7 linked regions of the Homo sapiens genome follow. The protein of the gene in region 1 purifies or fractionates together with the protein of each later gene. This does not show direct contact. Each region holds a gene or a part of one and is shown on either strand. Other genes may lie near its edges. The genes, in order: PPP1R3A, PPP1R9A, KIF18A, DNAAF10, CCDC85C, PPP1R10 and PPP1R2.

Region 1 (3,500 bases):
AGAACAGCATGTGCCATAATAGAATATTTATACAGCTTTTCCATGATATAATTTATATGCAATGGGGTTTCAAATATTCCTAAAACTCACACAAGAGAGCATTATCAAATTTCTAAATGAATATTGCAGTTGGATTTTATTGTGAAGAGTTTGGTTAGAGAAAAATAGCACACCTTATCGGTGTTATTTTACAAAATGTGTACTTGACTAAAATAAAAATGAACTAATACTTATTTGATCAAAAATTATAGCTACTAAAATCTCTTCTCTCCAAATAGTTACAGAATCTAAATGGGTCATTTCTGAGCATTTCTACACTTCCTATGTAGCTTAATTTGGAGGTTATTTCTTTCAGAAGGTAAAAACAGAATATATATATGTATATATATGTATGTGTATATATATGTATATGTATATATGTATGTATATGTATGTATATATGTATATGTATATATGTATATACATATACATACATATATATATATGATTTTTTCTTTATACCTGCAAATAGATTAGTAATAGTATGTAATATCAGTCATAGCTAAAATGAAAATCAGGCTGCCCTAGTGTAGAGAATAACAGCTAACTTCAATTCTTCTTAATAAAAAAGTTAATTTGCTATCAGGGTGCCTGAGATTGTATCTTCTGAAAGTGTCAATAATCCCTTCTAATAAGTATGGAATGAATGAATGTGGAAATACATTTAGGTAGGATTTCTGTTAAGTCAATCACCCACCCAGGCATTATGTTTTCTCTATGGAGATTTTTCTCATGTTAAGAGTTTGCAAATCTCCACATTGGTGTGGGTTGTCTATTTTCTTTTGATGCCTGATAGTCTGTACACTTTGGACAGAAAGAAATATGTAGAGAGAAGGGGAGGCAGAGCTTGTAACTCATAGGCATGTGATTGAGAGTGACCCAAAGATATTTAATTGCACCGAAAGGCATGCATCATGAGATACTTAAGTATCACCACATATGCTAGCAAACTAAGCAGATTCCTGATATATCTGATGGGTTTTATTTTAAAATCAATGACAAAAATGACATTGATATAAATCACATTAAATGTACATAGACAAATAAGCTAAAATGGCATGCAAAACAATATAACCTCAAAGTTAGGATTTTAGGCTTCAAAGTTAAAGATATCTGAGTTTGAATCCAAGCTCTCCTACATGCTAGCAATATGAACTTGGGCAAGTTAAGCTTGTTTTTCTGGTATGTTAATTGAGAACAACTACAGCTCTATCTCATAGGGGTTGAGATTTCGGTGAAGTAATACATATAAACTTTTAGCACAGTGTCTGGAACATAATAAGTTATCAGTAAATGTTAACTGCTGTAAAAAGACAATGGTAACTTCAGCTTTAGGTGTATCTGAAAAACTGCAAGGCTCAAGCTGCACCAAAGTTCTTCTCCTCTTTCATTTCAGGGCTTCTAAATTTTCAGCTTTGGAGAGCCATTCCTTTGTCTCTTGCAAGATTTTAATCAACAAGGAAGACTAACTGAACTGTAAATTTTCTTGAGAAATGTGTCACTTTATATATGAATTATCTTAAAGCTGGAAGAGAACTTAGGAATGTTAAAATTTCCACATTTAATAGATGAAAAAATGAAGAACTAGACCAAAAGGGATAAAAAGGCATTCATTTAGGATTGAACAGACATGCATATTAATTTCAGTAAAGTTTACACTTAGTAGCTATGTGGCTGTGGGCATATTACTTCAGAGCTCAAAGCCTCAGTTTATTCACCTGTCAAATAAGGGTCATGATGTCTAGTGTCACATTGATTAAAATAAGTTTATATACTTAAAGCTTTTAATATAGCATGTTAGACACACATGAGGATATCATCAAAAGCCCTTCATCACAATTGTCCCTTTTATTATCAAATCTTGTTCAGCTAATGTCCTGACTCTTGAACTTGCATTATTTCTCCATACATCATAGGTTTCCTTGTTTCAGGCTCCAAAACTTATTCAACAAATGTTTACTAAAGAACTGTATGTCAGGTTCTGAGTTGTTAGGCAGCAGTATCGATAACTGAGAAATGTGGCTGGAGACAGGCGCCTGTGAAGACAAGAAGAGGCCCCAAGGGAAAAGGCCTTGAAAAGCAGAGAGAAATGAAGGGAAGAGAGAAAACACCAAAACCAAGTTCAGATTCTCTGGGTATACAGTAGAAGCCATAGATAAAAAATGAAATAAGAATTATTTCCACTTGAGGTTTTCTAGAATATGTGACCTAGAGCTGACACTGTGTACTTACTGGCCTGGGGGGTGGTCTCCCTTCTCAGCATCTTGGCTTTTTTTCCCCACTGCCTGCTAAATGTATGTTCCTAATGGCTGGGTACACCGGTTGAGTTCATCTGGTTTTGTATTTTATTAAGTGAAACCAATTTATTATTTTAAGTAAAGAAACTGCATGATATAGGTGTTTGATGGTATTTATAACTTGGCCAGGTGAATGCAAATAAAGTCCTAAATGACTTTAATGCCAAAGGAGAAAATTGATTAGTCCTCAATTTTTGTACTGTAGGAAAAAAACCAGGTACGTTCAGGAACAGGAAAGAGAGAACTCCTTTCTAAAACATAATTTTAAGAATACAGAGGGTTTATCTTTCAGGGTGGTAAAATTGTGAAAATGAGGCCAAGAAAAGCATTGGGAAATGGGGTCTAAGATATGGCTACATTGTGTGTTTCAGTCAGAGCTGTTGGATTGTGAGACTTCCTTAATTTACGCATACAGTATAATCTGGGGTCCTGGAAATAGTCCAAAGAGGTGTAAATAGCCCCACGAGGCCTTTGGGACCTCACGTATGCCATAACTAACTCGTTTTGAGTCCACACTAATTGTGGAAGCTGGGTCTGTTTAAGGAGGGACCTCTGGCAAGGCCACGTGGAAACATAAAACACAGCTGTGCAGGGCCCATCAGGAGGGTGTTTGAAAGCAGCCAGCTGGTTGACAGCGAGGTGCCAACTGGCTTCAAGTTTCCTTGGAGGTCCACCAAGGCTTCATGGTTTCCTGGTTTTGTGGAAATCCATACCCCATCCTAGACTTTCCCTAGAGTGATTTTGAAACTTTTCTGAGAGAAGAGGAACAAAAGGGTATCCTCCTTCAGGGTGTCTCTCATGCTGTGGCTGAAAGGAGTCACTATGAATGCCATGCCTCAAATGGATCCTCTGGGATCTCTGAGAGCCTATCCCTCCCCACCTGAAGCCCATCTGCAGCCTGTAAAAATAAAGCAGAGCCCACTATTTCTGAGCCAAAAATGCTCCTGGCAAAAAAAGAAAAGAAAAGAAAAAAGGAAGAAGAAAAAGATGGCACCGTTATGAAGTGGGTCAACTTAGTTTTTCACCTTCCTCCACTTCTGCTAACTGTGACTCTCATCCCTATTCCAGGTTTTTACCCCTACCCCTCAACAGGAAATAATGCAGGGGAAAAGACCTCAAGGGCAGATATCTGAAGTGGATCCGATTGCCCAGGGCCCTATCAAA
Region 2 (3,500 bases), about 19 Mb from region 1:
AGAGAATAAGGAAAGAATGTTGAAGTTGGAAAGCTACTGGATTGAGGCCCAAACATTATGCCACACAGTGAATGAGCATCTCAAAGAGACTCAAAGCCAGTATCAGGCCTTGGAAAAGAAATACAACAAGGCAAAGAAGTTGATCAAGGATTTTCAACAAAAGTAAGCCGCTTCTAATAACTAAAGAATAGTTATGTTTGTCTAAAGAAGGTTTATGTCCAATAATTTTGTAATATCTAGTGGAACAGAAAAGATGACCTTAGAGATATCTTTCCTATCCAGGAGCATAGTTACAGCATAAATACACATTAAGTTTTGGAAGTCACTTCTATCACTTTTTCATGAGATTATGTTTTGTATATTTTATAGTTTTTGGCTGCCAGGGCCTCTTTGCTATTTTTGATAATTAATCGTTGTTTATAACTGTTAAAACATCTGAATTTCTTTATTCTTTTTGAAACACCTCTATGATTTAGAAACAAGAAGCCCAGCGGAAAGTCATGTAGAATGACTGACTATTGGATGTGGAGCACGCAAGCCACAGCTGGGGCCTGAATCAGGCTGCTCCTCTCTATTCTTAGATCAGTAACTACAGAATTTCCCACTACAGACAGTGCACATATCGACTAGCAAGGCCCCCTGCCCTGCCACTCTGCATTTCTCAGCTGTTGAGAGAATCAGGAGGGCCTCCTTTCACTGCAGGGAGAGAGACCATTACCACATTCTGCTTTTGATTTTCAACAGCTGTTTCTGAGCTACTGCTCCTTTGCTTCCATCTCTTGGATCTCGGTGTAATGTCACGGAGACTGACCACGGAGATTTTTACTAGATTTTTTTCATCAGTTACTTCTGGCTAGTTAGAACAAATAAGTAGTACCAGTACCTTTTCTGGTCTTCCATGCCAAGCCTCAGAAGCTAAGCATATATGTAAGATTAACCATATTTCTTTTATTTCCTATTATGTGGAAGAATGTTTTTAATATTTAAAAGAGTTTTGCTATCAAAAGTTTCTTGTTAAAAGGGGAGTAATTATTCTCTGTGACTATAAATTCAATACATCACTGTTTTAACTATTTGCCAAACTCTTTTTCATGAAATAATTTTATAGTAAATTTTGCTAAATTTGCATATTCTATTCCAGGTTTTCAAAATGGAACTGTTTCTCTTCTCCCCATATTATCCTTAGGTCTATAAGTGAGTGCCCCTCTCGATGTTTCTGACCCACCCAGCCCCCTCTTCACTGTTATTCATAGAAATCTTACAATTATCTTTTTCGAACTCTTATCTAGTTACATCAGTTTACTATACTATGCTTATGACATTGGAAAAATGGAATTATTTCTACCTGACAAGTAATTATCTCCACTAAATTACCCAATGTGGGTCATTAGTGCAGTCTTTCCTATCTAAATATGTATGGGTGTTCTAGAATCAGGAGCTACGAAAGAAAATTATAGTAAGCAGAATCGAATCATTTTTCTTTGCCTTGTGACCCATTAAAGATGTTTTAGTTTCTTTCATTACTATACTTTTTCCTCTAACTGATTGAATGTTGTCCATTTAAATAACTGTTCAGTTGCTTATCCTACTATGCAGTTTATTGTTTCAGATAAGAACTTTCATTTATTGAGTGTATGATATAATCAGAACTATTATTTTCTTCTTAAGAGAGCTTGATTTCATCAAAAGACAGGAAGCAGAAAGAAAGAAAATAGAAGATTTGGAAAAAGCTCATCTTGTGGAAGTGCAAGGCCTCCAAGTGCGGGTAAGTTGTGTTCCCTAAGACACTAAATAATAAGATGGTTTTGCTGTACTTGGAGGGGAGCGCTAGTTTAGAGTTTTATAAATGGATTTGTTTTTCCTAGATTAGAGATTTGGAAGCTGAGGTATTCAGGCTACTGAAGCAAAATGGGACTCAAGTTAACAATAATAACAACATCTTTGAGAGAAGAACATCTCTTGGTGAAGTCTCTAAAGGGGATACCATGGAGAACTTGGATGGCAAGCAGACATCTTGCCAAGATGGCCTAAGTCAAGGTTTGTTTAACCCAACCACAAAAATCATTTTTGATGACTGTGTAATTTGGCCTTTTATTTTTCTTTTTCTGACCCAGAGATTTAAAAGTTGGAAATACCTTCCTACTATGGGAAAGAAGAAAAGGCTTATCAAAATAGGAGTCAATCATTTTAGCTCTCGTCTTATCAAAAATAAATACTTTAATATGTAGCATTAACAAATCACAACTAAAGATAAGCCAAATACTATTTTAAAATCATCATACAATTGACAGATTTAATAAACTGCCTTACAAATTGTAGTTCATCCTATCTAGGATGAACTACACTACTTATGTGTTAATGACTAAGGTTTAGATTTTTTTTTTTTTTTTTTTTTTGAGAGTCTCACTCTGTCATCCAGGCTGGAGTACAGTGGTGCAATCTCAGCTCACTACAACCTTCGCCTCCCAGGTTCAAGCGATTCTCATGCCTCAGCCTCCCCAGTAGCTGTGACTATAGGCATGTGCTACCACGTCTGGCTAATTTTTGTATTTTTAGTAGAGGTGGGCTTTTGCCTTGTTGGCCAGGCTGGTCTCGAACTCCTGACCTCAGGTGATCCACCTGCCTTGGCTTCCTAGAGTGCTAGGATTACAGGCATGAGCCACCGCGCCCAGCCAAGCTTTAGAATGTTTAAGTCACTAGAATAAAGATCTTTTTCATAATATCAGAAGGCAGACTGCTGCTTTCAGCACTTGAGATTCATGTAGTTAACGAAGTCCATATAGTTTTGTGCTTTTACCATGGTGTACTGTGTATACTTCTTAGGTCTTTCATGTCAAAGACCAAGTAAGACCAAAACACTGGAAACATTTGGTATTATAAATGATTATCTTCATTCATACACCAACCATAAATAAATTACTTATGTTCTTACACACACAACATTCTTAGATTGCACGTGTATGAACATGAATGACTGTTTTAATATCTGTGGTATATTTGCAAATTAGAAAACACATAATAATTATAAAGATAAATACACAGGAATGTGTGGCTTCATCTTTTTAAATATATACATAGTAGTCCCTGGAAAATGAAAATAAAAGAATGTGGTGCAGCAGGGTTGTCATGACAGGACCGACAACTCAGAGGCAACACTTTGACGTGCAGTAAAACCCTGTTATAATGGGCTTTTTAGTTTTTTCGTGATCTTTCTCACATATTAAACTGTCTCCAGTGAAGTTTTCCTGATAAGCAAGTGTTTATATCCTATCATGAACTTTTAGAACTAAGCTCTTAGCCATTAAAAATGGAAAGGATTAGAAATCTTCATTTAAAATTAAAATGATATCTAGAGATTTGAATCCATTCACTGGGTTTATATCCTTCTAATGGGTTTTCCCTAAATAGGATGTAATTTATAAATAGTGCCTCTTAGGCAGCTGAAAGAGGAGGATTTAGCATTAGCATTACGACTAAGTGAGGAGCTGTGTGACTTCAGG
Region 3 (4,186 bases), on another chromosome or scaffold:
GACAAAATTTTGTGTTAGGAATTTTCTGAAAACTTCAGTTTTCTCTCAGAAAAATGAAAATAATATTACCTACGTCTCATGGGCTGTTTTGAGAATTAACTGAGAGACCATATGTAAAGGGACTAATAAAATACCTGGGAAGTCAAAACGTAAAGTACTATACAATGAGTTCTTACTGGAAATAAAGACATCTCGATTTTATTACCAAGACCAGCAGCACACAAATAACCATTTCATTAGCTAAGATACACGTAATACAGCCAAAAATAAGTAGTAGCTTTATTGATCCTCTGTCTAGTGATCAGAAACAATAATATAACATGCATCACATACAGTACACAATACTCCCGATTTTCCTCAACAGGAAATAAATGTCCATAATACAGAGGTTTCCATATATTGTTGCATTTATAATACTCTGCATGGGTATGAGTCATCCTATTTATAAAGTGATATTGAATCCACAAAATATAAGCTCCAAGAGGGAAGAGTTTGATTCCATTGCATACTATTGTGTCTAAAATCTAAATAATTGCTAAATGGATACAATAACAGTAATATATAGAACAATGAAATTCAGATACTGTTATTAAAAACACCCTGCCAAATAAAGTTATTTTAGCAAACGTATTTCCGATTTGTTCCAGGTATTTTCTCTCTTTTTAAAGTGTCTATGCTGAAATAATATCTATAACCTGGGACTTAAAAAAAATCACTTCACCTAATAATAAACCAAGCCAAAATCTTTAAATTTATTTTGTTATGCCATCATTAGACAGAGAATGTAAAAAGTAACCAAACAGAAAATAGTTTCACGGTCAGTACTAATGGGAGTAGGCCTGGAAGTCCTGAGAAATGAAGCCTGAGGCCTCAACCCAAAAGATCTCCAATTAATTCAGGTGAAGAGACCCCACATTTTGGCCCATATTAATGTGTCTGGAAGAAACAGGTCCCTACAACTTCTTGGAGGCCTCACTACTCAGAGAAAAGAAAATAAACACCCAGAACCCATTAATCCACACCCAAACTCCACCTCTCCCCCTAGCAGAGGGCATAGGCCAACCCCTGCCCGCAGCAGTCTCACTCACACCCTTAACTCTGGGACCGGGCCCTGCACCCGCCGGTCTACAGGAGGCCTGGTGATCTCAAGTGGCTGCCTCCCACCAGCAGCTCCGGCCTAGCCCCGCCCACTTTGGCCACCGCCTCCGGAAACGGCCGCGCGCGTTGCCACGGTGACGAGCAAGCAAAGAGCTTCCCCTGCGCAGCCAGGCTGAGCTTCTTGGCGCCAAGCTGCCGCGAGCCGTGACAGCGTCCGACGTGATGACATCACGCGAGCGGCAGCCAATGAAACGAAGCGCTGAGGAAAGTGGCTTGGGTTTGAATATTGTGGTTGAGTCTGAAGCGCTGGGAGGCGGACATTAAAGTGAAGTGGTTGCGGTAACCTGGCCTGGGCCTGAAGTGAGTGAGAGGCACATGAAGGTAAAACTGGACTCTGGGACGCTCCTTTTGGTGACTTGTATTATTGGGAACGGAGGGTCCTGCCGCTTCAGGTCTAGAAGACCAGGTGGGCTTCTTGACAAACACAGAAGCGTTGAGGGGTGGGGGATCAGGGTACCTGGGGAGAAAGTGAAAGGAAAAAGGGATTCGAGAACCTGCTAAGAGCACAGCTCTGCTTGACCGTAATCCTCGACTGCTCAGCTGGAAGGGCAGGGATCTCCTTAAGTCCTGAGAGGAAGTCTTAAGTTTTAAAGGGCATCTTGGCCCCTTTCCCAGACTGGCAGAGAACTTTAACTGCCCAGCACCTTGTAGTGTCAGCTTTTTTCCGGACTCCAAATTGGGAGTGTTTTGTTTCAGACTCACATATAAGCGTACCCAGGGGCTTACCTATCAAACGAGGAGCTTTTGTTCATCACTGCATAAAATTTTTGTCTGAAGAGCTTTAACTGTTAGTCTTGCACTGGTCAATCGGGAACCCCTCCTGAGCCCCAGTTGTAGGTAGCATCGAGATAAAAGCCGCTCTGACTGCCTAACGGGATTGCCGAGGATCAGATGAGGTACGGAAGAGATACTGTTTGGCAAATGCTCTGCAGATGAAATTAAACTGTAAACATTTAGAATCAGTCCTATAGTCTGTTCTTGGTTTCCGCAGGACTTTTTTTTTTTTTTAGGAGCTCATTAGTCACTCAGTTACAGAGAAGCCAAGACTGACTGCTGTTTATTATATGAGAAGAGAGTATTTGACCAGAATGAACTGATTTTGTGGTATAATATATAGTTTAGATTATGGATAATTAGGTAGAAATTTAGGCACTCTACAGATTTTAATTTTTAGTGTCATTCCACCACGTCTAGCCTCCTGTTTCGTTTTTGTAAGGTTTTTATAAACTTTGATGCTAGAGAATGTGATATCCAATGACTAGATAGTGCTTCTTATTAAGTTCATAGTTTGTAAGAACTATTTCAATAAACAAAGATTATCTACAAAGCACAATCACAAAGAAAAAAACTTAAAAGATTATCTGCCTTTAATAGTAGTAATTAATCTCCTTTTCTATTATTTATTCATTTATTTGAGACAGAGTCTCGCTCTGTGGTCCAAGCTGGAGTGCAGTGACGTGATCGCTGCTCACTGCAACCTCCACCTCCCAGGTTCAAGCAATTCTCGTGCCTCAGCCTCCCGAGTAGCTGGGATTACAGGCGTTTGCCACCACACTCGGCTAATTTTTGTATCTTTGGTAGAGACGGGGATTCACTGTGTTGGCCAGGCTGGTCTCGAACTCCTGACCTCAAGCCATCTGCCCGCCTCGGCCTCCTAAAGTGCAGGAATTACAGGTGTGAGGCAGGGCACCCAGCCCTTCCTCTTCTACTATTGAAAAGTATTTACAAATACATAATATTTTTATATTGAAAGTGCATCTTGTCCCATCATAGAAATACCCCAAATCAATTAAGAGACACGATAAAAATGATTTTTTTTTTTTTTTTTTTTTTGCTGACAACTGTGAAAACTAAGAGGAAAAAAAATAGCTCAGCTGTCAGTGCCGGCCTTCCCTCCAGTTGAACCTTTTATTCTTCCCTGATGGTTGTAAGTTGGTGGGAGTAGTGCCCCCAAGACTGATATTCCAAAAAGAGCTTTAAGATGGACTGTAGATGATAGTGTTGAGTATCGTTTTCAGTCCTATACAGTGTTTGTTGAATCTGAATCTAATTCAGGTTTGAGTTTGTATTTAATATATCATAACTGTCACTCTACTTCTGTATCATTGTTTGGAAGCATTCTCTTCTGATTCCAGTAGAACCTAGCTGTTAATAACATGGACTTTAGATTTGTACCCGTTAAGGAGTTTGTGTTTTATTCTTCTGGTGAGAAGTCATTGGAGACTTTAGAGCAGGTGAATGCCATGTGATGCATCACATGATCTGAATGCTTTTGATGAACGTATCAGTGAATACAATCAATGAATTAAATTTATTATAGTACTTTCATAAAATTAGGGGTGAATCTTTGACTGAATTGACTTATATTTGACATTTGGTTGCCCACTTGTTACGTCATCTTGGAAAAGTTACTTATCCTAAGGCTAAGTCTTTGTTTTTGTAAAATGGAAATACTACTACAACCTACCTTACGTGATTATTATAAGGATTGAATGCAATGACGAATGTCAAGTGTTTACTATAATGCATGAGACAGAGTGTACATACTCAAATGAAAAGCATTGTTGTTCATTATTAATAATTATCACCATATCAACCTAATCTAAGCATTGTTAAAGCATACTTATTGAGAATGGCCACTCTGTGATATCTGACAAGTACAGAGAAATCATAATCAGTTTTATTTTCACATTCAAGAGCTCCTGTGCCAGGCCCTGAGGTTTCTATCAAAAGTAAGGAAATATAAGAGAGTGGTACCAGAAGCTGAGTTTTGGGGGAAATAGGGAGATTTTGGTCAAAGGGTACACTTTAAGTTATAAGATAAATAAGTTCATGGCATTTAATGTACAGCATCAATGGTGATAGACGTATTAATTTAATTGTGGTAATCATTCCATTGTGTATAAGAATATGAGACCATCACATTGTACATCTTCGTTTTATACAATCTTTGCCAATTAAATGTTTTAAAATTTCTAAAAAAGTAAGCAATATATATATTTTTAACTTCTATAAGAAAATTTCTGAG
Region 4 (3,500 bases), on another chromosome or scaffold:
TTCACGAGGGGTACATGAGAAATTTGGTACCTATTATAATTGATTTGGCTAGTTGTTTAATGGCCGCTCAAGACCATGAGGAAATTGCTTTAAAGGAAAAGTGAGATATAATTTTCTAGTGGGTACTCAAGAGCAGCTGTGTTTTAGAAATCACTTATTTTTTTTAATCATAAAAGCAATATTGAGTATAGAGGGAAAAATAACATTCAGTCTACCACACTACCACAACCATTAGATTTTTCTTTTCCTTTTAGGTCTTATATATAATTTTGCATAGTTATAAGTGTGAATATGAATTTGTATCTTAGAAACTTTTTTTATTTAATGTTTTGTCATATGCAAATGTTGCTGTTTCCACAGTTATCATTTTAATGACTATATAATATTCCATCATATGGCCGTACTTAACCATTCCCTTATAAGCCTTTGGTTTGCTTTTTTTATTTGTTGTCTTATGAGAGTGGCTTAAAAATAATGAGTAAATGAGTATTGTCATATGTGTAACTCTTTTGGAATAAATATATTTTATGATTTTTTAAAAAATTTATTGGGCCAGGTACAGTCACGCCTATAATCCCACAACTTTGGGGGCTGAGGCGGGCGGATAACTTGAGACCAGGAGTTTGAGACCAGCCTGGGCAACATAGCGAAACCCTGTCTCTTCTAAAATACAAAAATTAGCCAGGTGTGGTGGCACACACCTGTAATCACAGCTACTCAGGAGGCTGAGACACAAGTTTTGCTTGAACCTGGCAGTGGGAGGTTGAAGTGGGCTGAGATCTTATCAATTTGTATGAATCCTATAGAGAAAGATAATCTCTTATCTCTATATCTGGGATTTTTTTTTTCTTTTTAAAACAGGCTTTTGGTGGGTGCAGTGGCTCATCTCTGTAATCCCAGCACTTGGGAGGCTGAGGTGGGAAGATCACTTGAAACCAGCTTGGGCAACATAGGGAGACCCCATCTTTACAAAAACTAAAAATTAGCCAGGCATGGTGGTATAGTCCCAGCTACTTGGGAGGCTGAGGTAGGAGGATCACTTGGACCCAGGAGGTCAAGGCTACAGTGAACCATGATCGCACGACTGCACTCCATCCTGGGTGACAGAGCAAGACCCTGTCTCTAAATAAATAAATATTAAAGTAAAGCAGCCTTTTAATGATCAACTTTATTTTATCCCTGGAGATAAATCTAATGTTGTACCTCCACCTTTCCTGAGTTGTTTTCCTTTTAAGGATTTTTTTTTTTTTGCCCTTTTCTTATTCTCAGGTACTTGCCTTTTAGCCATTTTATTACATGCATTTGCATTTTTTGTAGGTAGTGACACTATTTTAGTAAGTAGTCCCATAACATGAATTAAAACAAGGGGGTTGAAATTAAATTGAGAATTTGTTAATTTTATTTAACATTTTCCTCTTCACTATTGCCACAGGAAAATTAAACTTAACTGTATATGAAATAGTATTCTAGGCCAGGCACAGTGGCTCACGCCGGTAATCCCAGCACTTTGGGAAGCCCAGGCAGGTGGATCACCTGAGGTCAGGAGTTTGAGACCAGCCTGGCCAACATGGCAATACCCCATTTCTACTAAAAAAGTACAAAATTTAGCTGGGCGTGGTGGTGCATGCCTGTAGTCCCAGCTACTTGGGAGGCTGAGGACGGAGAATCGCTTAAACCCAGGAGGCGGAGGTTGCAGTGAGCCAAGATCACGCCATTGCATTCCTGGGCGACAGAGTGAGACTCCATCTCAAAACAAAAGAAAGAAAGAAAGAAAAAGAAATAGTATTCTAGAACTCACATAAGAAACCATTAATTCAAAATTAGAGTGTATTCATGCCAATGGTTAAAATGGGTAATAAGGAAAAAAGTAAAAATTAAAACAACACTGGTATTTTCCCTAAAAAATAACACATTCATTTTAGGCTCATGATTTGAATTACGTAACATTCACATTTGCCTTGTCAGTCATCACTCGTAGATAACTTAGGAACACTTGTTGGCTTTTCTGTGTGTCTATTAATTTGGAAACCAAGTCAGATAGTTACATATGGGTGATATCTCTGATATTAAATACAACTTACCCAATTAGAAGTCAGAACAATGTGGATATTTTCAGATGTCATAACATCTGTCATATTGCCATGTACACAGGAAGCCATAGAAGAAGAATGTAGAAAAGAAACATAATCATTTACTTTTGAATTTTTGCCAACTCACTTTTATGCATGGCAGGAACTGTGAAGGTGTGGGACCCAAGGCAAAAAGATGATCCTGTTGCTAATATGGAACCTGTACAAGGAGAAAACAAGAGAGACTGTTGGACTGTGGCATTTGGTAAATTATTGAAGAATTCTTGCATTTGAATTATCAGATGGTAAAAAGCACGATGCTGCAAGAAATTTCACAGTAGTCTCTTTATGGTCTGTTTTGTGGATTATTCTAATAGTTTACTGAGGCAAATACACGTGGTGGTTAATGTCAGCCTCTGGGGCCTGAGTTTGAATTCTCACCTGCTACTTATTGGCCATGTGGCCTGGAGCAAGTTACCAAAGTTATCTGTTCCTTGGATGTTTCATTTATAAAATGGAATTAATAATAGAATTTACTTAGTTGTGTTGTCATGAAGAGTCAATGAGTTAATTACATGTAAAGTGCTGAGAATTGTGCTTATTATTATGTGTTCCTGTTTAACTAGATAATATTGACCTAATTTAAAGTCAGACACCATTAATGGGGATAAACCAAGCCTCAAATGCAAACAGTTACCTAACAAATCATACATTACGCTATATACGGAGTATGTTTATTTTCTAGAAAATAGTTTGCCATTACAAAGTTATTTCTTATAAATTTTGATAACTGTATTCCTTCATTAATTTACTTAAAATGAATATTGACTTTGGAAGACTAATTGACATTTGCCCTTTGATATGGTTTGGATCTATGTCCCCACCAAATCTCATGTCCAATTGTAATCCCCAGTGTTGGAGGTGGGGCCTGGTGGGAGGTGATTAATGGGGGCGGAGTTCTCATGAATGGTTTAACACATCCTCCCGTATACTTTAAATCATCTCTAGATTACTTATAATACCTAATATAATATAAATGCTGTGTCAGTCATTGTTGTATTGTTTAGGGAATAATGACAAGCACAAGAAGTCTGTACGTTTTTAGTGTAGATGCAAATTTTTTTCCAAATATTTTCGATCCATTGTTGGTTGCCTATAGATGCAGAACCCATGGATAGGGAGGGCCAACGGTAGAAGAGAGTAATAGTAGGAATATCCTTAGAGATGGCTCAGGACAATGGCCAGAGGTGTTAGGACGGCCTGAAGATAGTTCTAAGTTTTTGATGGTGTTTGCAAGGAAGAGATGAAATCCGAGCTTTAGGAAAATGAACTAGTGGTATTTAGCGGGAGTGATGAGTGGTACAGAGAATATGAGTTCAAGAGCTCTTTGCAGTATTCCAGGGAAGACCTAAGTTACAAGCACTGAGAAGG
Region 5 (3,500 bases), on another chromosome or scaffold:
GCATTGAGAATCCGGGGCCTGCAAGGTGGACCCAGGATGTGTGTGGGGAGATAACTCTTAGGGGGGTTAGTGCTGTGGGCAGCCCCACAGGGCAGACCCCAAAGTCCCAGCTTTTCAGACTTCAGTGCCCACAAGCAAGAGTGGCCCAGGTGGCCTGTGTTGCCTCCAGGGCTGGGGAGCGCTGTGTCAGGGGAGGTTGCGTGGACACTGAGAAGGGGCATTCCTGAATCCACTGAGGATGGGGCTTGTGGACACCCCAGACAGCTCTGGGAATCTGGTTGAGATGTGGGTTCTAAGACACGCCCCACATTACAACTGGGAAGGGAAAATGCCCAGCTTTGAATGTGTGTGTTCAATCCAATCTGGTTGAACCCAGAGCCAGGTGGGAAGCGGGACTTGACCTCACAGGTGGTAATTTGCTCTTCAGGAGGAAGGGAAGCGTCTGCGGACTTCACTGAGCATTTACTGCCTCTGAGGTCTGAGTGCCTCCTGAGCAGTGATTCTTGGAGTCTGGCTTGGGGGGTGGTGGTTCTGGAGCATCACTCTGGTGACCACTGTGGTGTGGGCTGGGCTGGGGGAGCAGTGGGTGGAAGCTGAGGGCTTCCATCGGGAGGAGGTTCTGGCCAGGAGAGTGGCCACAGGAGAGAGCCTTCTGTAGGTTCCAGACCTGGTGAGTCTGCTCCAAAGTCCTGCTCTCAGCTGCTATCTGCCTTCTCATGACCTCTGTCCTCTAGGGCAGGCGTCCTGAGCTCTTGGGTGGGGCTCAGGCAGGACAGCGCCTGTGGGAGATGCTGCCGCTCCCAGGTGGCTGCTGTGCCCTCCATCCCCAGCGCTGATGCTGCTCCCCGCTACTCCCATCCCTACATCTAGGGTGGTTGGGATCAGCGTCTGGGATCTAGGCAGGGACCACTCTGGGGTTCAGAATTCTCATCTCCCTGCTACATAACAACAAGAGACTCTATTGGCATCCCCAAAGGCTTGGGGATAGAGGAACAAACTTGTCTGCTAAAGGGACTTGATGCTTCTTTGATCATAACATGTCAGAAATGGTCCCCCTCCCCTAGGCAAGCACCCAGGATTGGACACTCATACATCCCCTGTCCTCACAGGCAGAGGGTTCTGGGCAGGCCTGGAGCCGGGTCAGCCGGGGATGGGTGCCTGTTCTTCAGCAGGTCACCGCTGACCTCCAGCTCTTGAGGGGAGCAGAGCAGAAAGATCAGGATTGTATTGACTGCCTGTAAGTGTTCTTGGGTTTGCCTTATGTGTACTGTTCAAACAGAGGCGTGGAGCATGTTTAACTACAGTAGATGGCCCTGGGGAGGAAGCGAGGGTCTGATTCCCTTTCCTTCTTCCTGATTCCTCAACGGCAGAGACATTCTGCCATTTCCTCAGTTCAAAGCTGGGCATTTTCCCTTCCCAGTTGTAATATGGGGCGTGTCTTAGAACCCATGTGGACATTTGCTGGCAGGTCTTCCCCTCTCTGCCCCTGGAAAAGCCCTTGAGTAGACTGTGTCTGCGGCTGATGGTATCTGAGAGTGGAACAAATGCCAGGCCCGGGAGAGCCGGAAACCCCTGAGCAAACTTCACAGAGTCCTAAGGCACTAAGAGACTTGAGAAAGACAGGGGCCCACCCCAGGGCCAGCCACATGGGTGCTGGAGCCCTCCCTGCCCACCTGGGGCCCTCTGTCATTACTGTCTCTTCATCTGGGAGTTTATGAGCCTGGGACTCTGGTCCTCTTGACTCCCAGCCTTGGCACAGAGTGGCAGGTTCTGAAAGTCTTTTGGATGGAACAAACGTGTGCCTGGCACTGTGCTGACAGCAACTGGGTTTTCTCTCACTCGCCTCCCACAACAGTTGCTGGTCCCCATTGGGGTCCCTGTTTCATCTAAGGAACAGGCCCAGGATGGTGAGGCAAGTTACAGCAGGGGCAGGGTGGGGCTGGGCCAGGTCAGGGACTCCCGTCCAGTTGAACCCGGAGCCTGTGCCAGCCGGTATGTCCCGGTTCCCTTGCCCTGTGGGTGTGATTATTCATCATGCCCCTTTCCCTCAAGGAAATGCCCAGGTTGGGCTCTTAACCTCTTCAGGTGTGCTGGGAGCTCAGAGGAGGGGTGGCCGAATTGGGAACTGAGATGGGCCTTGAAGATGGAGTTAGTAAAAGCAGAAGAGAGCAGGTAAGAAGAGAGACCAGGCTTCGCAGAAAGAACAGCTGAGCTGGGCGGATCACCTGAGGTCAGGAGTTCAAGACCAGCCTAGCCAACATAGTGAAACCCCATCTCTACTAAAAATACAAAAATTAACCAGGTGTGGTGGCACGCGCCTGTAATGCCAGCTATTTGGTAGGCAGGAGAATCTCTTGAACCCAGGAGGCAGAGGTTGCAGTGAGCCATCGCGCCACTGCACTCCAGCCTGGGCCACAGAGCAAGACTCATCTCAAAACAAAACAAACCAAAACCAAAACCAAACGAAACCAAAACAAAAAGAAGAGCCGAGCAAAGTCATGCGGTGGGCATTTGCCTGCACCTTGGGTTCAGCTGGGGTGATGGATGAGTGGGGACCCAGGACAAGCACTGGGGCAGTGAGCAAGGCCAGGGCCGGTGGGGTCTTTGAAGCCTCTTCTACTGTCCCTGAAGTCCCTAGGTTGGGCTTTCCTTCGGGGTGTGGGCAGTTCTAGCTCTAACCTTTTCTGATGGACTTTCCAAGAGGACCCAGAGTTACCTGTTAGAAGTCCTATTAGAAACTGGAAACTTTTTACAGCTTATCCCCATCTTTCCCCTGCTCCCCACCTGATAAATATGCAGACACATCACCTGCTGGGCCTGAGTGGCCTTGTCAGCTGACATGCTCCCTGCCTGGGGGTCTTGGAAGATTACTAGTGTTCTGTGGATTGGACGATCCAGACAGAACCAGTGGCTTCAGCCCACTTGAGACCCAACCATGTGTAAGTCTGTGCCTCTCCCTGGGCCCTCATTTTCCCATCTGTAAAATAGGAAGCTTGGATGGGCTGAGCTGAGAGTCCCAGGGACCCTCATCTCTTCTGGCCCTTTGACTCAGAGCCACAAGGAAGGGGTGGCCTCCCCTGCCCATCCTGCCTCCTATCGGTCACTCAGTGGTCCTATGAGCCAGCTCTTTTATATTCCTGGGAATTCTCTTCCTATGCCCTACAGCCTGGGTTTTATCACCTGCCTCGTGGTTGGTCCTTGCCTTGGGGCAGGTGTGGGGATGGTGAGGCTACCTGTGACCACATGGGTCCCACTGTGGGGCCTAGAGATGGTGACCTGTCTAAACGCTGTTTGAGGCTGAGACCCTGGCCCAGACCAGCCTCCCCTCCTGCAGGGCCCCAGTGGAAGTACCTGCCTCCCCTATCTGATTGCCTCTGCTTAAAGGACTCAGTAAGGGGTTTAGTGCAAGAGGAGAACACTGAGCTTCAATTCCTGGTGCAGGTTTGCTGGGGACAAGGCTGCATGTTCCTGGACTCGAGGTTCCTCTGCTTGCTGTCCTG
Region 6 (3,500 bases), on another chromosome or scaffold:
GGACCAGATTCGCATCTTTGCTTTTGAAAGCACAAACCACTAGCTTCCTTTTAACTTAGAGACAGTAAAAACTTGTGTAGTGTTTGGCTAATGAGTGACAGTCTATTCAAGGTCTAGGAGGACCTGCTTGATTTCCATGCATCCATTTGTCTCAATCTCTGGCACCTACTCCCAGATCTCCTTAGGGAGGGATTCTGTTTTCAAGTTTTGTTTTGTTCTCCATCATCTACCACTTCAGCTGATACATATCTTGCCATGTGTAGTGATTATGACTCTTAATGGGCTAAGATAAAAAGGACTCAAGTCTTATAAGACATTTAGCTCAAACACCCAAGATTGGCCCAATTTCTATCAAGCTATAGGCTGTTTTTCAAGCCAAATTTATCAGCAACTAGGGAAGACAGGACTTAACGATAGGTGTAAATGCCCTGGAGAGTTGAACATCTTGTTATGGGAACTGATCTTAGCTTTAATACGATCTAGTGAAGTTCAGCCATCCTAGGAAGGATGCTGCTGGGAGGGAGGGACAGGTGTGCTGCCCTACTCCTCCAATCGAATTGCTTTCCTGTTCAGTCACATATGCTCCCCATGCTTAACTTGCCAGGGCTATTTTCTCAGTAGTGGCAAGTGGTCTGTGTCGATTTTTCATATCTAAAAAATAGCATAGTTGAATAATTAGTCATTATACTTTGTCAAATATAGAGATGTGGTTTATTAGAGGGCCTACTCGGGTAGTCCTTGCCACCCATTTATTCTGTGGGTTTGTTTGTTTTGTCCTCTTACCATAGAAACCACCATCATGGGTTCGGGTCCCATAGACCCCAAAGAACTTCTCAAGGGCCTGGACAGCTTCCTTAACCGAGATGGGGAAGTCAAAAGTGTGGATGGGATTTCCAAGATCTTCAGGTGAGTCTTTACCCCTTTTTGTATTCACTGTGAGTAGAGAATATTGTGTGTTAAAACATGGCTGCAGTTGAGGCACACTGGAATGATCCTGGAAAGGAAAGGGAAAGATAGTCAGTGCAATAGGATTAAAATGTAACAATTTTAGGATAAGGGATAGGAAAAGATGATCACTTGTTTCTGACCATAATGGAAACTGGAGATTTGGACGTCCACGGTCCCAAGGGAGTCATGCTTTGGAATGAGAGCAGGGTAGCCTGGTAACAGAATTCTAGATTGTTTTGGTTCGTGTTCCACCTACCCATAATGTTATTTTCCTTCAGGGATTCTCAGGTTTTTCAGGGGAGAGTAAATAACTAAGCCAGTCTTGAACAGACTATTAGGGACAGTTGTTGAGGGATAGCCTTATCACCTGGAGGCAGAATGGAATTCATCCTGTGTGTTACGGAGGCAGCGATGCTCTCCTCCCCAGGTCAGAGACTGCGGTGTCTCTGTTCTCCCATAAGTTTCCATGTCACACTGGATCCATCCCATCTTCCTAGAGGTATATGTGACTCCCCTTCTCTGGAGCAAAGTCCCAAGTCATTAGGAATCTCTAGGCAGTTCACAGAGAGGCGCTTTTGCTAAGAGAAGAGATACTGGCTGCTTCATTTCTAACCCTAACTCATCTTCTGCAGTTTGATGAAGGAAGCACGAAAGATGGTGAGTCGATGCACTTACTTGAACATTCTCCTGCAGACCCGTTCACCAGAAATATTGGTCAAGTAAGTGGGGATCTGGATGGTTGGAATGGGAAGGTGTAGCGAAAAGATGGGGCGGTGAGGCATGGGGTTCCTCGGTCATTGATGGGAGACTGGGATTGTAGGATGTGGTACTGTCAAAACCTAGAAAGGGCATTACTGATAGACTCTCCTGCCTGCCTGCAGATTTATTGACGTTGGCGGCTACAAACTTCTTAACAATTGGCTGACGTATTCAAAGACAACCAACAACATTCCCCTCCTCCAGCAAATTCTACTGACCCTGCAGCATCTACCGCTCACTGTAGACCATCTCAAGCAGGTACCTTTAGTCTTTAAACCCTGATTCTTCCTTTTTTGGTTTAGTCTAATGGATGAAAAACTCAAACTGACTGATGTGGCTGTAATCTTGGGCCTGTGAGGTAGAACAGCAGAAAAAAAATAGGAATTTAGAAGAAGAAGACTTGGTTTGAATTTATCTCCTTTAATAGGTGTGTGGCGGCTGGGCACGGTGGCTCACGCCTGTGATCCCAGCACTTTGAGAGGCTGAGGCGGGCGGATCATGAGGTCAGGAGACTGAGACCATCCTGGCTGACGTGGTGAAACCCCGTCTCCACTAAAAATACAAAAAATTAGCCAGGCATGGTGGCATGCGCCTGTAGTCCCAGCTAATCAGGAGGCTGAGGCTGGAGAATCGCTTGAACCCAGGAGGTGGAGGTTATTGTGAGCCGAGATCGCACCACTGCACTCCAGCCTGGGCGACAGAGTGAGACTTCGTCTCAAAAAAAAAAAAAAAAAAGGAATGTGTCAGCCAGGTGTGGTGGCTCACACCTGTAATCCCAACACTTTGGGATGCTGAGGTGGGTGGATTGCTTGAGCCCAGTAGTTCAAGACCAGCGTGGGCAAAAATGATAAAACTCTGTCTCTACAAAAAATACAAAAAATTTACCCAGATGTGGTGGTGCATGCCTGTAGTCTCAGTTATTTAGGAGGCTCAGGTGGGAGAATCATTTGAGCCTGGGAGGTCGAGGCTGCAGTGAGCCAAGACTGCGCCACTGCACTCTAGCCTGGGCAACAGAGTGAGACTCCGTCTCAAAAAATAAAAAAAAAAAAAAAAGCAGGGAGGACTGTAACTTTTGTCGTTTTTAGCTCTAAGTGGAATTATTTGCCTCCTGGCATTTACCTTTCTGCTGCTCCCATCTCTCATAGAACAACACAGCTAAACTGGTGAAGCAGCTGAGCAAGTCAAGTGAGGATGAAGGTAGGGTGCCACTTCTGCTCTCTCATGGGCTTTTCTCTATTACTTCCACTTAATTACCTTAATATCTTTTCCCATCCTTGGATTGTCCCTTCACTTTTCTCTTTCTACCTCACCTTGCTTTTTTTCCTTCTTTTAAAGAGAAAGTTCCTCTAACCTGTACCCTCTTTCCTGTTCTCAATTCCAAAGTTGTTCATTTCTCTGTTGCTGAATATAAGGTGCCATACTTTAACTGGAAGCTGATTCCTAAAATTGCTTGTTATAAAACACATACACTTAAAATTTGCTGTGGGAAATAGTATCATCCTAGCGTGTCTCATCTGTGAAACTCCTATTACTAAATGATAAATTATGAAATGAGTTTATAAGTGGAAATGTTGGCCAGAAGAGAGGTGCCATAGATCAGAGATGTTATTTGCCAAGTACAAAAGGAAAGAGTTACAAAGTATTTTTTCATATATTTAGAAACAAATTTTATTCTTGTTTTCACATCTATAAAGGAAAATAAAAAGTCTTCAGATTGTTGTAACAATTAGGTGTGTTATACATAAAGCAACTAACGTAGCTTTTTAAAAAAATGTCAGTTTTTGAGGAACTGG
Region 7 (3,500 bases), on another chromosome or scaffold:
CTAAATAGGCCACGAAAAGGACACTTGTTTACAGTACAAGAGCTGAAACAAGAAAGCAGAGCGTCGCCTTGTTTGACCCCATCTGGGAACATGCTACCTCGGCTGTGAACGGTGCACTGGGCAACTCAGAATCTGCCCTGCTCTGTGGCTGTCTGTGAGCAACTGCTAACGGACCTCAAATGCTAGTTTTGGGATTACACATTTTAGCAAGTAGGTAAACTTGCAAAGAAAGAATCAGAGAATAATGAGAATGAACCCTACCTTTTATAGGTGTCTTCGTTGTGTAAAATGCGATGATAGTTTGACTCCTACCCATCCCCCAGTTGTGAGAGGATGTTATTTTACGTAAATATTACCAAGGAATTTTTAAAAATAGAATTCAAACATACTTCAGATATATGTCTGTAATTCATATATGGATGTACTACTATCATTAGATAATTCTCAAAACTCAATGTCCACTTAAAGTGAGGTTTATATAAAGCCATATTCAGATAGTCTAGCATTTCTATTTTTTTATCCAATTGTCAGGACCGATCAAACCATCATTGAGGGGGGTTTTATTTTTTTAGATGACTCAGTGCTGTTATTTTCTTATTGTTTATACTTTGCATTAGTGCTTACGTCTTTTTTTGTTTATTTTTGAGACAAGATCTCATTCTGCCACCTGGGCTGGAGTACGGTGGCACGATCACAGCGCACTGCAGCCTCCATCTCCTGCTCTCAAATGATTGTCCCACCTCAGGCCACCACACCCAGCTAATTTTTGTATTTTTTGTAGAGATGGGGTTTTAGTATATTGCTCAGGCTGGTCTCAAACTCCTGGGCTCAAGTGATCTGCCTGCCTCCCAGAGTGCTGGGATTACAGGTGAGAGCCACCATGCCCCACCAGTACTTATGTCTTTAATGAGTGGTTTCTACAGGTACCATTTGTCAGATACCAATTTTTGAGGGTTAAATTAAAACTGGATAGAATCCATAAATCCACATAACTAAGTATAGATAAATCTCAGTACATTGCACCACAGCATTCAGCTGTTTTAAACACCACTGTCATCTTCGATCATTGTGGACTTCCCATTCTTTCAGGATACCTTGAATATAGGGCACAACTTATGAAGGTCTAATTTAGCAGGCCTAGTGAGTACATATGTGTATCTTAATGAAAAGAAGACACTGTTGATTCTAAGATGTACTATCCAGGAAGAAAAAATACTGCCAGCTATGATTATAAGATGCCATCCTTTTAAGACATGTTCTTTTTCAGAGATGTGAAAATGTAAAAAATGTGTTTTGGGAATTATTGAAAATATGACAGTAAATATTGCTAAAGCCTATCATTTGAGAAGGATTATAGTTTAGTGGTTAATCTGGTGCCAGATTGCCTGGGTTTGAATCTTGTCTGCTGCTTATTAGCAAACTTTATTAGTTGTGATTTTCAGTGAATTATTCATTATATCTGTGCCTTAGTTTAAATATTAAATGAATTAATAAATGTAAAGTGCTTAACCCAGTGCCTTACCCTCAAATGTTAGTCTTATTGTAATAGAAATAAATATAGAAATTCATTTTTTCCATATCTCAGCGGGGTTTTTACACAGTCTGCTTTGGAGTTCACTATTCTGTTCAATTCAAATTCTATAGTAGTCTTAGATAATGCAGGCAAATTCTGCTTGAAAAAATTATGCCTTAATTTCCTTTGATGTAATTTAAGATATAAACAAGCTTCAACTTTGTCTTTTTCTGCCTATAAAGGGATGTGGAATATTATAGTCAGAGGTTTACTGAGTAAAATAAAAATTTGTTTTCTAAAAGTTACTTTTTGCTTACTTGTAATTGCTTTTATTGTTAAGTCTTACTTTAATTGTTCAGTAACGATATCAGGCTTCGAAGTCTTATATTGTGTCAATCTATATAAGTTGAATCTTCATTTAAAGAAAGAACCATTTCTTGAAATGTGCAATTAAAGTTAAATCACCTTGAAGCAAAATCTTGCTTCCCATTCCAGACACAGTCACAACTTATCAAATGAGCAAGTCACAAGCAACAAGAAGTTCCAGTAGGTCTTCTTAAGGTGGCACCATATGAGCTAACAAAGTAAAAGTGAGAAGCGGTGACGTTTTCAGCACCAGATTTAGGCTGTAGGAAAACCAGTCACCCAAGAGGGTGGGGGAAAACTGAAACCAGCAGGTGCTTTCACCATCATGGCAGATCTGCCATGTAAATGGTGGTGCCCCTATTTTTGTCTGCAGGGATACTGACCTCAAAGGAGGTCATACAGTTCATGATGGTACTGGGATTAAGCTCAGGCTCACTCCTTGGGTTTTGCTATTCCACAACTAATGTTAATTCTGCCATCACTTTAGAGATGCCGACTTTCATATCCAGTGTCCCCTGCTGACAGTTTCTTCTACTTCACTAACTTTCGAAGATTTCCTAGCATTTTTGGAGTCTGTTTTGTAATACCGTTATTTAAATGCTTGTTTTTGCAAGCTATTGTTGTCTTTTTTTGGATCTGAATAATTGTACTAATTTTTTTTTCTGTTAGTGTTCTGTTGAGAAAACAAGTTGAGTGAGACTTTGAATATTTAGAACTTAAAATTTCATTTACAGAAGAAAGTAAACTAAATGGCAAACAAACTGGGAAAAATTGAAGTTATATAAAATGTGGTTTATATAAATCTAAAGAGCTCAAATTTATGGGAAGATTTCTGATAGGCAAAGGATGTAAACATAATTCACATGAGGAAATTAGGCAAAGAAACAACAGTTTTAAAATACTGTTTTATACCTGCTGAAATGGAAACACACACACACACACACACACACACACACACACACACAATAGCTAATCCTAGCAATGGTTTGGTAATTTACTGGGGACGTTACAAACAGTCCTCTTTTTTTAAAAAAAAATCTGTATGGCAACATGGAGTGAACTATAAAGTTCTTAATAAACTTTAATTCAGACTCTTACACTAGCAAATTTTCTTTAAAACAGCATTGAATAGCATATATACAAATATGTTCATGTCTGCCTTATTTTAAATAGGAAAACTTATTTAGGTTATCAATCTAAATGAATCTTATACAGTCATTAAGAAGGTAAAAAAACACAAGCAACTTATACTACATATACTTAAAACTTATATATCAGCATATGTATTGTATATATACTGTATGTACTGTTTTATATGTATAGTTATATATATTTTTATGTTTTGATAGCTTATACATATTTATATGTATTATACAAAGGGAAGAATATGCTGAAATCAAAATTATGAATGGCTTAGGGTGCTGGGATTGTGTTTATTAAATTTTATTTTTAATTTCAAGAAAACTTAATTTCTGCTTGTGTTCTGTAGTTCTTTTTCTTCAATCCTTATCTTGCAAAAAATATTTACAGGATGTGGCGTTCTTTCTTTCCCATTAGAGATACTTTTTAAACTCCAGAGGTCTTTCCTCATTCTTTTTTTTATCCTAAGCAACGATGATCA

Evidence for each region.
Region 2: the proteins of PPP1R3A (region 1) and PPP1R9A purify together in Homo sapiens (affinity purification with mass spectrometry, with the first as the bait; one large-scale study listed by BioGRID). This does not show direct contact.
Region 3: the proteins of PPP1R3A (region 1) and KIF18A purify together in Homo sapiens (affinity purification with mass spectrometry, with the first as the bait; one large-scale study listed by BioGRID). This does not show direct contact.
Region 4: the proteins of PPP1R3A (region 1) and DNAAF10 purify together in Homo sapiens (affinity purification with mass spectrometry, with the first as the bait; one large-scale study listed by BioGRID). This does not show direct contact.
Region 5: the proteins of PPP1R3A (region 1) and CCDC85C purify together in Homo sapiens (affinity purification with mass spectrometry, with the first as the bait; one large-scale study listed by BioGRID). This does not show direct contact.
Region 6: the proteins of PPP1R3A (region 1) and PPP1R10 purify together in Homo sapiens (affinity purification with mass spectrometry, with the first as the bait; one large-scale study listed by BioGRID). This does not show direct contact.
Region 7: the proteins of PPP1R3A (region 1) and PPP1R2 purify together in Homo sapiens (affinity purification with mass spectrometry, with the first as the bait; one large-scale study listed by BioGRID). This does not show direct contact.

The regions. Positions count from the first base shown.
Region 1 is NC_000007.14:113,912,510-113,916,009, reverse strand, and holds part of PPP1R3A (protein phosphatase 1 regulatory subunit 3A), read left to right. Parts: intron 1-3,500. UniProt on the Homo sapiens protein: Seems to act as a glycogen-targeting subunit for PP1. PP1 is essential for cell division, and participates in the regulation of glycogen metabolism, muscle contractility and protein synthesis.
Region 2 is NC_000007.14:95,250,094-95,253,593, forward strand, and holds part of PPP1R9A (neurabin-1), read left to right. Parts: coding exon 1-162; intron 163-1,668; coding exon 1,669-1,765; intron 1,766-1,865; coding exon 1,866-2,037; intron 2,038-3,500. UniProt on the Homo sapiens protein: Binds to actin filaments (F-actin) and shows cross-linking activity. Binds along the sides of the F-actin. May be involved in neurite formation. Inhibits protein phosphatase 1-alpha activity.
Region 3 is NC_000011.10:28,105,357-28,109,542, reverse strand, and holds the start of KIF18A (kinesin-like protein KIF18A), read left to right. Parts: upstream 1-1,386; 5' UTR 1,387-1,479; exon of another isoform or gene 1,480-2,054; intron 2,055-4,186.
Region 4 is NC_000002.12:68,140,528-68,144,027, reverse strand, and holds part of DNAAF10 (dynein axonemal assembly factor 10), read left to right. Parts: intron 1-2,232; coding exon 2,233-2,334; intron 2,335-3,500. UniProt on the Homo sapiens protein: Key assembly factor specifically required for the stability of axonemal dynein heavy chains in cytoplasm.
Region 5 is NC_000014.9:99,594,208-99,597,707, reverse strand, and holds part of CCDC85C (coiled-coil domain-containing protein 85C), read left to right. Parts: intron 1-3,500. UniProt on the Homo sapiens protein: May play a role in cell-cell adhesion and epithelium development through its interaction with proteins of the beta-catenin family. May play an important role in cortical development, especially in the maintenance of radial glia.
Region 6 is NC_000006.12:30,607,244-30,610,743, reverse strand, and holds part of PPP1R10 (serine/threonine-protein phosphatase 1 regulatory subunit 10), read left to right. Parts: intron 1-788; 5' UTR 789-799; coding exon 800-906; intron 907-1,580; coding exon 1,581-1,667; intron 1,668-1,829; coding exon 1,830-1,965; intron 1,966-2,852; coding exon 2,853-2,904; intron 2,905-3,500.
Region 7 is NC_000003.12:195,536,826-195,540,325, reverse strand, and holds part of PPP1R2 (protein phosphatase inhibitor 2), read left to right. Parts: intron 1-3,500. UniProt on the Homo sapiens protein: Inhibitor of protein-phosphatase 1.